3 separate regions of the Homo sapiens genome follow, and regions 1 and 3 are each linked to region 2. Evidence: fine-mapped expression QTL. A gene starts in region 2. Each other region holds a variant in brackets. All regions are shown on one strand. Distances are from middle to middle.

Region 1 (4,354 bases), 49 kb after region 2:
ATTGTGAAGGTCTGCGGCTTCACTCCCAAAGCCGGTGAGACCATAAACCCACTGGAAGGAACGAGCAACTTCAGATGCACCACCTGTAAGAGCTGTAACACTCACAGCGAGGGTCTGCAACTTCACTCCTGAAGTCAGTGAGTCCACGAACCCACCACTAGGAGTTTCTTCTACTGGTGGAAGAAACTCCGGACGGGTCCGAACATCAGAAGGAACAAACTTCAGATACACCGTCTTCAAGAACTGTAACACACACCGTCAGGGTCCACAGCTTTAGTCTTGAAATCAGTGAGACCAAGAACCTGCAAAGTCTGGACACAATTTCATTGTAGAGGATTTTAATTTAAAATAAAAAATAACTTACAGTACCAAGTCCTTGTATAATGCTTACACTACGAGGACCTGTTTAAGTCCTTTGCATTTATTTATGCAGCTCATGCTATTCTATGGAGTAGGTATGATTGTCTCCATTTTATGAAAGAAGAAGCAAGGCATGAAGATGTTAAAGATCTTGCCTAGGGTCACACAGCTAACAGGTGCTGTCAAGTTATGGAGTCTGTGGCCTTAGAACGTCTATAGCATGGGGCAGGTTTGATTTTCACATGCAGTGTACAAAGTAAAGCCCACTGGGGCTTTCAGAGCCAGAAACCACTCTTCTTAGGATAGAAGTCATTCATGAATATTGAATAAATGACATTTAGACTACCTACTTAAACCAGGCAGGGTTTAGTTAGGAAAAAGTTAACATTTTGGGATCACAAGACAAATTACACTCTTTAGGTCATGGCTTGGTCCATATTATGCAAGAAAACCAAATATCAGATTATGAAAATCTGAATTCTAACACATAGAAACCAGAATAGGAGTGAAACTTCTTAGGGATACACACAACTATATAATTTAGATTTAAAAAAGAAAAATTGGCCGGGCACGGTGGCTCAAACCTATAATCCCAGCACTTTGGGGGGCTGAGGTGGGTGGATCACGAGGTCAGGAGATTGAGATCATTCTGACCAACAATGTGAAACCTCGTCTCTACCAAAAATACAAAAATTATCTGGGCGTGGTGGCGGGTGCCCACAGTCCCAGCTACTCGGGAGGCTGGGGCAGGAGAATGGCTTGAACCTGGGAGGTGGAGGTTGTAGTGAGCCTAGATTGTGCTACTGCACTCCAGCCTGGAGACAGAGCAAGACTCTGTCTCAAAAAAAAAAAAAAAAAAAAAAAAAAATCACATAATTTTAAAGCTAGAAAAGGCTTTTGGTATTGTTTATAATAACCCTTCTCTTTACAGTAAAGGAAGCTGAGGCTCAGAAAAGTTGAAATACTTGACCAAAGTCATGCAGAGAGTTTGTGAGAGAACTCCTGGTTCATGGCTATTCTCAACAGCCTTGGTGAGTCATGTTTTATGGTGTAGTCTGGGGTTAGATAGCACAACAAAAATCCACTCTGATCTTCTGCGTTAATCAGGCTGACTGCATAGTTACTGAAGCTGCACTTCACCTTGAGTTGTGTACACAAAAGTGTTGAGTTAAAGCCTTTCTGGCCATCATCATGCCAGTCAGAAAGAGAGAATCAAATTTAACAGGGGAGAAAGTAAAAGAAAATAATGGAAGACTGAAACTGCAACAACAAGAAATCTCCGTGTTTCTGACCTTCCTGTCCCCCTTAGAATGGACATAATTTTCTTCAGGAAAAAAAAAAAAAAAGACAAGTAGGAACCATGGTCACCTCTCTTGGACTTCAGTTTATCCCTTCTTCTGTTTTTAAAAAATGCATTCTCTAAAAAGCCCTGGAGTTAAGGCCCTGAGGATCTAACTTAAAATGGATTTCCTTCCCTCCTTCCTTCCTTCCTTCCCTCCTTTCCTCCTTCCCTCCCTCCCTCCTTCCCTCCCTCCCTCCCTCCCTCCTTTCCTCCTTCCCTCCCTCCCTCTCTCCCTCCCTCCTTCCCTCC[CTCCCTCCTTCCCTCCT/C]TCCCTCCTTCCCTCCTTCCCTCCTTCCCTCTGTCTGTGCTATTTGTTTTTTTTTCTTTGTTTATTTGAGACAGGGTCTCACTCTGTTTCCCAGGCTGGGGTGCAGTGGCACGATCATGGTTCATGGCAGCCTTGATCTCCTGGGCTCAAGCAATCCTCCCACCTCAACCTCCTGCATATCTGGGACTACAGGCGTGTGCTAATTTTTGTGTGGTGTTTTTTTTTTTTTTTTTTTTTTTTTTTTGAGATAGGATTTCACTATGCTGCCCAGGCTGGTCTTGAATTCTTGGGTTCAAGTGATCCACCCATCTTGTCCTCCCAAAGTGCTGGGATTACAGGCATGAGTCACTGCACCTGGCTATCTGTGATGTTTTTAAAAATACATTTTTTGTATATAAAAAATGGCATCACTTAAAGCTTTTAAAATTTGTGACTGAAATACAGATATCCTGCTTCTCTATCATAGGCTGTGAGTCCAGCAAAGTGCTTAGCACAGAGTAAGTACTCTATACTCAAATACATCAAAGTGACATGATCTGAAATTCATGTCTTTATTCACTAGATGTTCTATGAGAAGCAGGATGTGGTCAAAAAGGTTGCAAGAAAGTGAGAAAACCACCTCATGATGGTGCCTGGGCACATCAGTACTCTTGCAGCTTGAAATTGAGATGAGCCATTGATTTTCCATGGGTTGAGCACATGATACCATCAGGTAGGTTTTAAGCAAGTCTTCTGGGATTTCATACTTAATCAGTAATGCAGTGAGTTTCCATTGCAACTGAAAGGCATTTATATTGGAAACGGGTGCCAGCTGTAGTGTGATGATTTCTTATTTCCAACCAGCTAGGGAGAGATAATTGCAGGTATTGATAAAGCCATACAGATTCGCTCTATATGGTTCAGTGAACTGCTCTTTTCATTCTGTGTAGACAAATGTTGTTATCGTTTATTTATGACCTGTGAGCAGGTTGTTATATCCTAGATTACTTATATTCAATGAGGCATACTCTTTTATTATTCTTATTTCTTTGCCCTTCTCATTTAATGACTTCTACAAACTCTTCAGTGCAATAGGTTCTTCTATAGCAGCAGAAGAATCATCCTGCTTTGCCTAACGATGCACTGCTCGGTTTCAGCCATCATTGATTGTTCAGTTGGTGGAGCCTGCATCCACCCGACTTCCCTGTTTCTTGTTATGTACACTACTTTCTAATGTCACAGATGCCCTTATGTGATGCGCACTTTCATTTTCTTTATTTGCTTCTGCTTCTGTTCTGGTGTCCCTTCCTATTTTTTTCATGTTACTATGAATTTTGAAAAGTCAATTCTTAAAAAATACTTTTAATTCCATAAAATAAATATTTCAAAACCAACATATTATTTTCACCTTCACTATCCATTTTTTTTCATTTGGACCTAGTTAGCGAATATGGAGGATAAAATTTGTTCATATTGCTCAGAGTATAGTGGTGATTATTCTCCTTGACCTTTGAATATCGTGCACCGAAGAATAGGGAAGTAGTGTTCTAGAACTGAGAATGAAGCATAAATAAGTTCACATGCTGCACTGTTGCCTAAAGCCATAGGAAATTATGTTGACAGTCAAGAGAATGCTGGCAGTCACAGGACACTTCACCTGTTATTTACGCAAAGGCATAGTGCAGGTTCAGTAGCATAGCCTGTGTGGCTTGTGGTTCATGAATCAGACTGCCTAATCCCGGGAACCACAAGGGACATCTGTAAATCCATTGGCCAGTTCCTGAGGTAAGGGCCACAGGCAAACAGACTGTTTCTAGAAAATGGACAGTAGAAAAAGCCTGATGTGGGGTGGGGGGTATCAAAAAATGATATTAATTTTCATAAACACTTTATGAGTTTAAAATACCATGTGTATTTTAATGTGAGACAAACCTCACATTAAGTTTGATAAAATAGAATAACATAATTATGAAAAATTAAAATGGTGACATGCTGATAAATCCACAACAATGAAATCCTTTTGTCAAAGGAATGGGAAAAACTCAATAGAAATATTAGAAAAGCGTGTAAATAATATTTCTTTAGGGAATAAAGAATTAATGTTATCAACATTTTATTCAACAGAACTGAATAGGATTAAAATAATAATTTAGGCTAGGCGTGGTGGCTCCTAGTCACCTAGCCTAATCCTAGCACTTTGAGAGACTGAGGTGGAAGGATCATTTGAGGCCAGGAGTTTGAGACTAGCCTGGGCAACATAGTAAGACTTCCATCTCTAAAAAAAAAAACTAGTCAGACATAGTGGCATGCACCTGTTATCCCAGCTACTCTGGAGGCTGAGGGAGGAGGATCGCTTGAGCCCAGGAGTTCAAGGTTACAGTGAGCTATGATCTCACCACTACCCTCCA
Region 2 (4,354 bases):
TACAGGAGCGAGCAAGGCAGACCACATGGCTTTTCTGCTGGAGCTTTCATGCTGAAGGAGGTTCTTAGACAATCAAATACACACATAGACATACTTCAGGTAGTGATAAGGGTGATGAAGGAAAATAAAATAGGGTGAGGTTCAAACCAAAGGGAAGCTATCAGATAATAGGCTGGTCAGTAACTATCTCTGTTTTCACTTTCTTATCCCTAGCTCTAGTAAAGTCAAGAAACCAGCACTTCTTGAACTTTGATGTGCAAATGAATCACCCTGGGATCTGGTTAAAATGCGGATTTCAATTCAGTGGGTCTGGCGTGGGAACTGAGACTGCATTTTTAACAGGCTCCCAGGTAATGCCTTGGCTGCTGGTTCCTGGACCACACTGTCTTGCCATATGGGATTAAGGGAAAAGCTGTGAGTCCCTCCTAGGGCAGCCTCAACAGAGAGGCCATACCTCCTGAGGGCAGCAGACTAGGCAGTGATGCCAGCCTTAAGGAAGAGCAAAGATCAGCAGCAAATCCACCAGTACTAGATCCTCTGACACTCCTGGCATGCATTCATCAATTCAGAACCTCCCTTTCGATAATCTGGGTTTGAAACCAGCAAGAAAGTCATGGAGTTTCATTTTAAGTTTCCCCATTTTGTGGTACACAAGCCCCTCCACAGCCTAGCCCACCCTTATTTTTTGCTATAAGCATTCCTGACCCCTAGGTTTCTGGCAGTCAGAGTGGACAGTCCCCTCTCTCTGCCTTGTCCCATGGCCATCCATCCCAATATTAAAAAAAAAAAAATCTCCAAGCCATTTGGTACTGTTGTTCCCTCCATCTAGAATTCTCTGGCCCATGAGGTCAGATCCTGTCCATTCCCCAACACCCAGCTCGAATGCCACGCCCTCACGGGTTGGAGGAGAAGGGGGTTAGTCAGGAGCAAGCCCTTCTCAGAAATCCTACAGTTCTTTGCCTGAACCTATTTTGGGACATTAATCTCTTCCTACCCGCTCTGTGAGTGATTTTTGTTGTTGTTTAAGAGTTATCTTTGCCCTTAAGAGTTATTTTTGTCCTCGTTTTACGGATGGGATTTGGGTTCCTCCAGGTAAGACCTACCCTCCTCCACCCCCAAATCCTCCTGGTACCTGGATGTAGCCTAAGAAGAATTGTCCTATGAACGAAGAATAAATTAAGATTGGGTTTGCAATTGACGCCAGCAGAAGCAGAAATGGGCTAGGTTGAGCACCAGGCAAGACAAGCTGACGATCAGGGTACACATCTTGAATCAGAAACCCTGGGCACAGACCAGCAGTCTGCGTGGTAACAGGCCCTCCGAGTGATTCTGATGACACTCGAGTTTGAGAACCAGGGCGGTCTAGCCAAAAGCCTGCAGTACACCCCTTCCCCTCTCTCGCAGCTTACGACCTTGACCCTGGGCTCTGGGGGCTTCCGCCGAGGAGGGAGGAGGGCACAGGCGGTCACAAAGGAGGGCGGGAGTGGAAGGGGTGAGCCTGGAAGAGAAAGTGCGAGGATGCGAGAAGAGGGATGGAGCGAAGGAAGAGGATCAGAAGGAGGAAAGGAAGGTAGCGGGGAGGGCACAGAAGTGGGGAGGGAGGGAGTGGAGGAGGGACTGGCACCCCGCACGGTGGCATCTTCCAGAAGGTCATGCGTCCGTCCCCACGTCTTTCCAGGGCCGGTTCTCCCCGGTGGGGCCCGGGGTCTTGGAGACCAGTCTGTGCAGCCTGCCCGGCACCAGCGTGAGCCCCGGGACCCCGGCCTGGCGTCCCCCACGCCCGCGCCCCCGCGCCAGTACCTGCTCCTGCTGCGGGGGGGCCTCCAGCACCGGCGCTGCCTTCCGCGCCGCCGTCCCCGCGGCCATGCCTGAGCCACTGTGCCTTCTCCAGGGCACAGCGCCTGCCGGGGAGGGTCCCGCAGAGTCCGCAGAAGGAGGCGCCGCGGGGCCTCGGGAGCCGAGGGTGAGAGCCGGATCTGCGGCGGCGGCGGAGCGGCGGCCCTGCCCGGGTTGTGCGGGGCGGGAGATGGGAGCCTCCCGGCACGCCCCGCCTCCGCCCCCTGCACGCTGGCCAGCGTCCTCCCCAGCAGCGGCCTCGAGGTCCCGGTCGCCAGCACCCCGGTTCCTTCAGAACCTCAGGCCTCCCATTCAGCCAGCCATTGTCGCCGATAAAGCGTCTTGAGCCCTACCGGGTGCGTGTGGCGGGAACCCCGGTTTTGTTACCGGGCGGCAGGACTGGAGGAGGGGTCAGAGGTGGGTAGGGAGAGAGAGGGGAGTAGAGGAGTGAGAAATGGCGGTGGGGGGGCGAGGGGTGCTGGGGAGGAAGAGAAGAGAGAGAGAGAGTTTCCTCTCCCTCAGAGGTGTTTATTAGGAGGCAGGAGTTCGGGTGGCTGTGCAGATACAGACTTTCCTCAGTTATCTGTGCTTCCTCCAAAGATGATGAAGGAGAGAAACTCCAATCTAGGGAGAGCGCAGACCATCTTGGCCCCTATGCTGCTCCAGGCCATGCAGGGCCCCTGCGACGCAAGCATCTTGCCTTTGCCCCTCTACCTCCAGGGTCTCCCCTCCCGCCTTTACAACTTAGGCCTAAGCCTGGCTTCAAGGTTGAGAACAAGCTGGAACGTTTAGGCAAGCCTTTAGAAATACCTGGGTGTTGATTTGGGGAAACAGAAAAGAGGAGCACAGAATTAGATGATGTGTCCTACGAAATACAGCTTACCCCTTTCCAGTTTGTGATGGCTCGTATTTGTCAACACCTACAAAGGAGGTGAACAGACCAAGATGGACATTTCTCTGCCATTGTGGAACGTAGAGCCTAACAGGGGATAGAGAAAAATAAGCATCTAAGTACAATTTATCACGGATGGTGCCTTGGTTTTCCAGCCTTAACTGGGCATCAGAATCCTATGGAGGAATGCTGAGTTTGTTAAAACTCAGAGTGCTGGCCAAGCACAGTGGCTGATGCCTTTAATCCCAGCACTTTGGGAGGACAGGGCGGGCGGATTGCTTGAACCTAGGAGTTTGAGACCAGCCTAGGCAACATGGTGAAGCCCCATCTCTATAAAATATACAAAAGTGAGCTGGGCGTGGTACACCTGTAGCCCCAGCTACTCAGGAGGTTGAGGCTGGAGGATCGCCGGAGCCCGGGAGGTTCAGGCTGCAGTAAGCCGTGATGGAACCACTGCACTTCTGCCTGGACAACAGAGCGAGACTCTATCAAAAAACAAAACAAAAATCTTCAGATTGCTGGAGTTGAGCCCTAGAGTTTTTAATATAGTAGGTCTAGGGTGGAGCCTGAGCATTTGTCTTTTGAACAAGTTTTCAGGTGCCGCTGGGGCTGTTACCTACATCTGAAGACTACCTTGTAGCATGATCAGAGTGTGTTGGAAAGAGTGTCTGAGATGGAGAGAACAGTGGATGCAAGGGCCGGAATGCTGGAGAAGGCATAATGAATTGGAGAAATAAAAATCATGGTTAACATTGATAGAATGCTTACCGTGTGCCAGGTGCCGTCCTGAGCACTCTACCTGTGTTAGCTCATTCAGTCTTCCTGACAATCCTGTGAGGTGGGCATTGTGACCGTCCGTGTTTTACACGGGAGAACACTGAAGCACAGAGAGGTCCAGAAGTTTGTTCAAGTTTTGAAGCTAATAGGTGGGGCAGTGGGAATTTGAACCCAGACAAAACTGACTTCATGGTCTGGGTTCTTAATCTCTCAAGGAAGTAGCTGCGAAGGTCAGCAAGGGCCAGATCCACATAAATCATATTAAACAGTTTGGACTGTAGCCTCAGGAGAATGAGAAGCCATTACCGAGTTTTAAGCAAGAAAATGACATTACCAGACTTGCCTTTTGGCTTCAAGAGTGGGGAAGAGGGCTATGACTATGACTCAAGACAGAGAGACCAGCCAGAAAGCTATTGCTGTAGTTTCAGCTCTAAGGATGACAGTGGCCTTGGTGGTGAGAGTGTGTGCGGGGACAGAGTGGAGGGGAGATGGAGAGATGTGTTTGGGGATGGGAGATCTAGGTAATAGAATCTACTGTACTTGACTCATCTCCAAGGATGGTGCCCAGGCATGTGGCTTGGGCAGTCTAGCATTTGGGCAGACAGTGCTGCCATTGCTGAGAATGGGAACATTGAAAGAGCAGCAGATTTGGGGACACAAAAATAGTGGGTTCATTTGGACATGTTACTTCTCTACCTATCTTGTGGCCTGCCTTCATGTGGCAAGAGCCATTTTTTCTCTCCAGCCCAGGATATCCTCACATTCATCTAGATTCTCCCAAGGCAGCAAAATAATAAAATGAAAATAGTCCATATGGAGATAGATGTTCCCTTTCTATAAAATTCTGAC
Region 3 (4,000 bases), 580 kb after region 2:
TACAATAAAACTTCAGCAAATGTAAAGACAATGGGGACAAGAGTGACGACTTAGGCTTATGCATGTAGAGTATGTGAGAGGAGAACTTATTTATGGCTAAGTTGGGAAGAGATTCGGTAATACTGACAAAAATGAATTATTTAATATTATTAATACTACCACTTAGTGTACTAGTTTAAAAACCTGAAAACGGATCTAATGCAATCAACTTAAGAAATGAACCTGTTAGTTTTGTTTAATGAGAAAAATGTATGCAAACTTATTAAATGAATTTGCGAACAAATACGTATGGCTGGCCTTTATGGAATTCATCATGTACAACTGGCCATAACAATTAGTTAATGAATGAATACTGCAGTCTTTGCCAGTTTAGGAGAAGTTGGCAAAAACATCAGGGATATCAGTTTCTAGGCATTAAAAGGTGACATCCATTTGATTTCTTCCTTTTTTATATAAAAATCTGCCCTCTTGCAACTTCGATTTCTTGTTTCTATTTCTATTAGAAATTTAATAAAATATTCTTATTTACTGAAATCAAATATCTTGCTTGGCCTGCTCTAAACACATACTCATTTTCCTTTTTTCCCCAGCTTTATTAAGGTATAGTTGACCAATAAAATTACATATGTTTAAGGTGTACAATTTGACAATTTGTGATTATAACCATTTTCTTTAATGATTCCTTATCTAATATGATTTTAAGTCATTTCTCTCACAGTTCTTTCTCCTAAACATGGTCCAAGTTGATCATCTCAATTTTGATAACCAAAGTGAACAAACTTTGTTTCCAGATACAATTTTACTGTTATAAAGCAGAGGATAAACACTCTTTATTAGAATACCATAAAATACTAATGTAACCAACTATTAGTACACCAGCTTTTAGTAACCATATTCACATCTGGTTTCAGACTGATTTGATGGTCCATCAAAGCACTCAGTACTTATCACAAAAAATTTCCAAGTCAGATCTTTCTCATCTGTTATTGGTGCAGTTTCTAAAAAATATTGCTTTAGTATTAAAGTCTCTGATTGATTGAAAAATAAAACTTGAATATACACAAATGTGTACAGAAGAGAAGAAAAAGTCCCCCTACCCCAAACATCCCCACTCACCAGGTATATATTCTTCCAGAGCTACCACTAAATTCCGATTACAGAGAAATTTTAAAAGATTTTATGTTGAGCCCTGATGATTATGACAATGAAAAACTTAATGTCTGCCTCAACACAACCTGGTCTTCCTGCATCCCGACTGACTCCTTCTGAACTATTTTTATATTTGTGTTAGACCAGTCTTCTTGAAATCCAAATCTAGACACATCGATGGCTCCCCAGCTTTTCAGGGTAAAGCTTAAATGCATTATCTTAACATACCAAGCTATTCATAAATGGCCCCTCTCCCTCTCTGTAACCCCATCTCATAGCTCTCTGTGTCATAGCTCTCTGTACAGTACCTTTTGCTCTAGGCAAAGTGAACAGCTTGTAATTTCCAGAAAAGACCTTGCTGTCTTCCATCTGGATTGCTGCGTCCTCTTCCCAGAACAACTTCTTCATCTTCTTTGATGTAACAATTTCTAGCCATATTTTATTATTATTATTATTATTATTATTGAGATGAAGTTTCACTCTGTTGCCCAGGTTGGAGTACAGTGGCATGATCTCAGCTCACTGTGACCTCC[G/A]CCTCCTGGGTTCAAGCGATTCTTCTGCCTCAGCCTCCCGAGTAGCTGGGATTACAGGCACGTATCACCATGCCCGGCTAATTTTTGTATCTTTAGTAGAGCCAGGGTTTCACCATGTTGGCCAGCCTGGTCTCGAACTCCTGACGTGATTTGCCTACCTCGGCCTCCCAAAGTACTGGGATTATAGGTGTGAGCCACTGCACTTGGCCTCTAGTCATATTTTAAAACACAGCTCAGGTTTCATCTGGTGCAGCTGGCCTTCTCTTTCTCTCCACTTAGCTCTAGCTACCACTATTCTATGATCCCGCAGCAGCCTGGGTACATGTGCCTATTATGAACTTAACATGCCTTACTTAATTACCGGTTTTTAATATTTTATATCAGTCCTTCATTTACTCATTAGTTTACTGAATGATTTATAAATAAAATTAAAAGAAATTTTGAAAATATACAAACAACAATTTACTATACATAAGGAGAAGAGAGATCTGTAAACAAAATGGAAAATAACTGAAAGTTAGATTAGCAGTGGATAAGGACAGGTAGTTTAGATAAGAAACAATAAAATGTTGATAAATATAATACTACCTAAAATCACTAATAATAATGAAAATACAAAATTAAAACCACTACCTCATTTTTACCTCTCTGTTTTCCTAAAATATTTAAGTGATAATACCCAGAGTTAATAGCAGGTTGTTATTTATGTACATTCTCCAAAAGGCACTTTGGTGATACTTATCAAAATTTTAATTGTTCACACTCAATAACTCAGAAATCTACTCTATATTTGTGTAAGTACACAGAAATAAATCAAGAGGATGTCATTTGGAACACTGAAAATGACCTTAATATCCATCAGGAAAAGAATGGACAGTGCACTCTATTGTGGTATATCAATACAATAGAATACTGTGTAGCATCAAAATGAAGTAAATATACATGTTTTCATCTAGAAAGACTTTACACACTACATTTTATGTGAAAAACAAGTTGCAAACGTGAGTCTATGTTATCAATCCATTGTGCTTGAAAAAATAATGTCAATACTACAAGTATTAGCCAGGATTCTCCAGAGAAGCAAACCAATGGGATCTCTCCTCTGTAGATATAGATATCTATAGATCTTATATCTCTCATATCTACATATAGAGATAGATAGATAGACATTAATAGATAGATATAAAGTGAGATTTACATTAAGGAATTGGCTGAGATTATGAAGTCTGAGAAGTCCCATGTTCACCCATCTGCAAGCTGGAGACATAGAAAAGCTGATGGTATAGTTTGAAAGCCTGAGAGCCAGGTAGTCAGTGGTGTAGATTCTAGTCAGGGTCTGATGGCCTGAGAGCCAGGAGCACTGAGGGCAAGAGACTGATGTCTCAGCTCAAGCTGTTAGGCAGAGAGCAAATTCAACCTTCCTCCACCTTTTTGTTCTTTTTCAGGCCCTCAGTGAATTAGATGATGCTCACCCATTCTAGGGCTGGCCATCTGCTTTACGCAGTTCACCAATTCAAATGAAAATCCACCCACAGAGACACCCAGAAACAGTGTTTAATCAGCTATCTGGGCATCTTGTGGACTATTCAAGTTAACACATAAAAGTAATAATCACATGAACAAACTTTTTTTTTTTTTTTTGAGATGGAGTCTCACTCTGTTGCCCAGGCTGGAGTGCAGTGGCGTGATCTCGGCTCACTGCAACCTCTGCCTCCTGGATTCAAGCGATTCTCCCGCCTCAGCCTCCTGAGTAGCTAGGACTACAGGCGCCTACCATCACGCCTAGCTAATTTTTGTATTTTTAGTAGAGAGGGGTTTCACCATATTGGCCAGGCTGGTCTCAAACTCCTGACCTTGTGATCCGCCCATCTCGGCCTCCCAGAGTGCTGGGATTACAGGTGTGAGCGACCGCGCCCAGCCAAACATTTTTAAAATCATGGTATATCTCTATTTAATGTAAAAGAAAAATTCATGAAAACCTGCTGAGAATATTTGATTACAGAACACTATGTAAAGTTTGAATACAAACACTAATACATATACGATGTGTATACACACAGAACTATGCATACTGAAAAATATGAAAGGATAGGAACTGTTAAGGGAAGTCATCTTTGTGTGTTGAGATTATGGGAAGCTCACTTTTTACTTCTTACATTCCTATAGTTTAAAAATTTTTTAATAATTATATGTTAACTTTGTAAATGAAAAAATATATTTTAAAGATATTCAGAAAAAGAAGATATGTTTGGTTATTATTTAACTTTTTTAGGACTATGAAGGAAACTTGTAAACTATAGTGTAAACTAAGATTGGAC

Alleles and levels. Alleles are on the strand shown, and positions count from the first base shown. SD is a standard deviation of normalised expression in the study named.
In carriers of allele CTCCCTCCTTCCCTCCT in region 1, the expression in CD4 T cells of the gene that starts at base 2,028 in region 2 tends to be higher than with C alone (moderate effect, 0.64 SD a copy in CEDAR).
With allele A in place of G in region 3, the expression in rectum of the gene that starts at base 2,028 in region 2 is lower (large effect, 1.7 SD a copy in CEDAR).

What was found. PIP is the estimated chance that this variant, and not a neighbour inherited with it, causes the effect. A credible set is the group of variants that fine-mapping cannot tell apart.
Region 1: its variant is the best candidate, but not a certain one, in a credible set for the expression of RNF175 in CD4 T cells (CEDAR, PIP 0.81).
Region 3: its variant is the best candidate, but not a certain one, in a credible set for the expression of RNF175 in rectum (CEDAR, PIP 0.62).

What each region holds. Positions count from the first base shown.
Region 1 is chr4:153,806,961-153,811,314 of GRCh38, forward strand. No RefSeq gene overlaps it. Among named protein-coding and RNA genes, the nearest start is that of SFRP2, 20 kb to the left of the region's middle. The variant CTCCCTCCTTCCCTCCT/C (reference allele first, on the strand shown) is at 1,952.
Region 2 is chr4:153,757,997-153,762,350 of GRCh38, forward strand. RNF175 (ring finger protein 175) reads right to left here and starts at 2,028. Exons shown (of 9, transcript NM_173662.4): 1 at 1,801-2,028. The coding sequence starts at 1,866.
Region 3 is chr4:154,336,145-154,340,144 of GRCh38, forward strand. All of the region lies in intron 3 of DCHS2 (dachsous cadherin-related 2), which reads right to left. Among named protein-coding and RNA genes, the nearest start is that of DCHS2, 150 kb to the right of the region's middle. The variant G/A (reference allele first, on the strand shown) is at 1,683.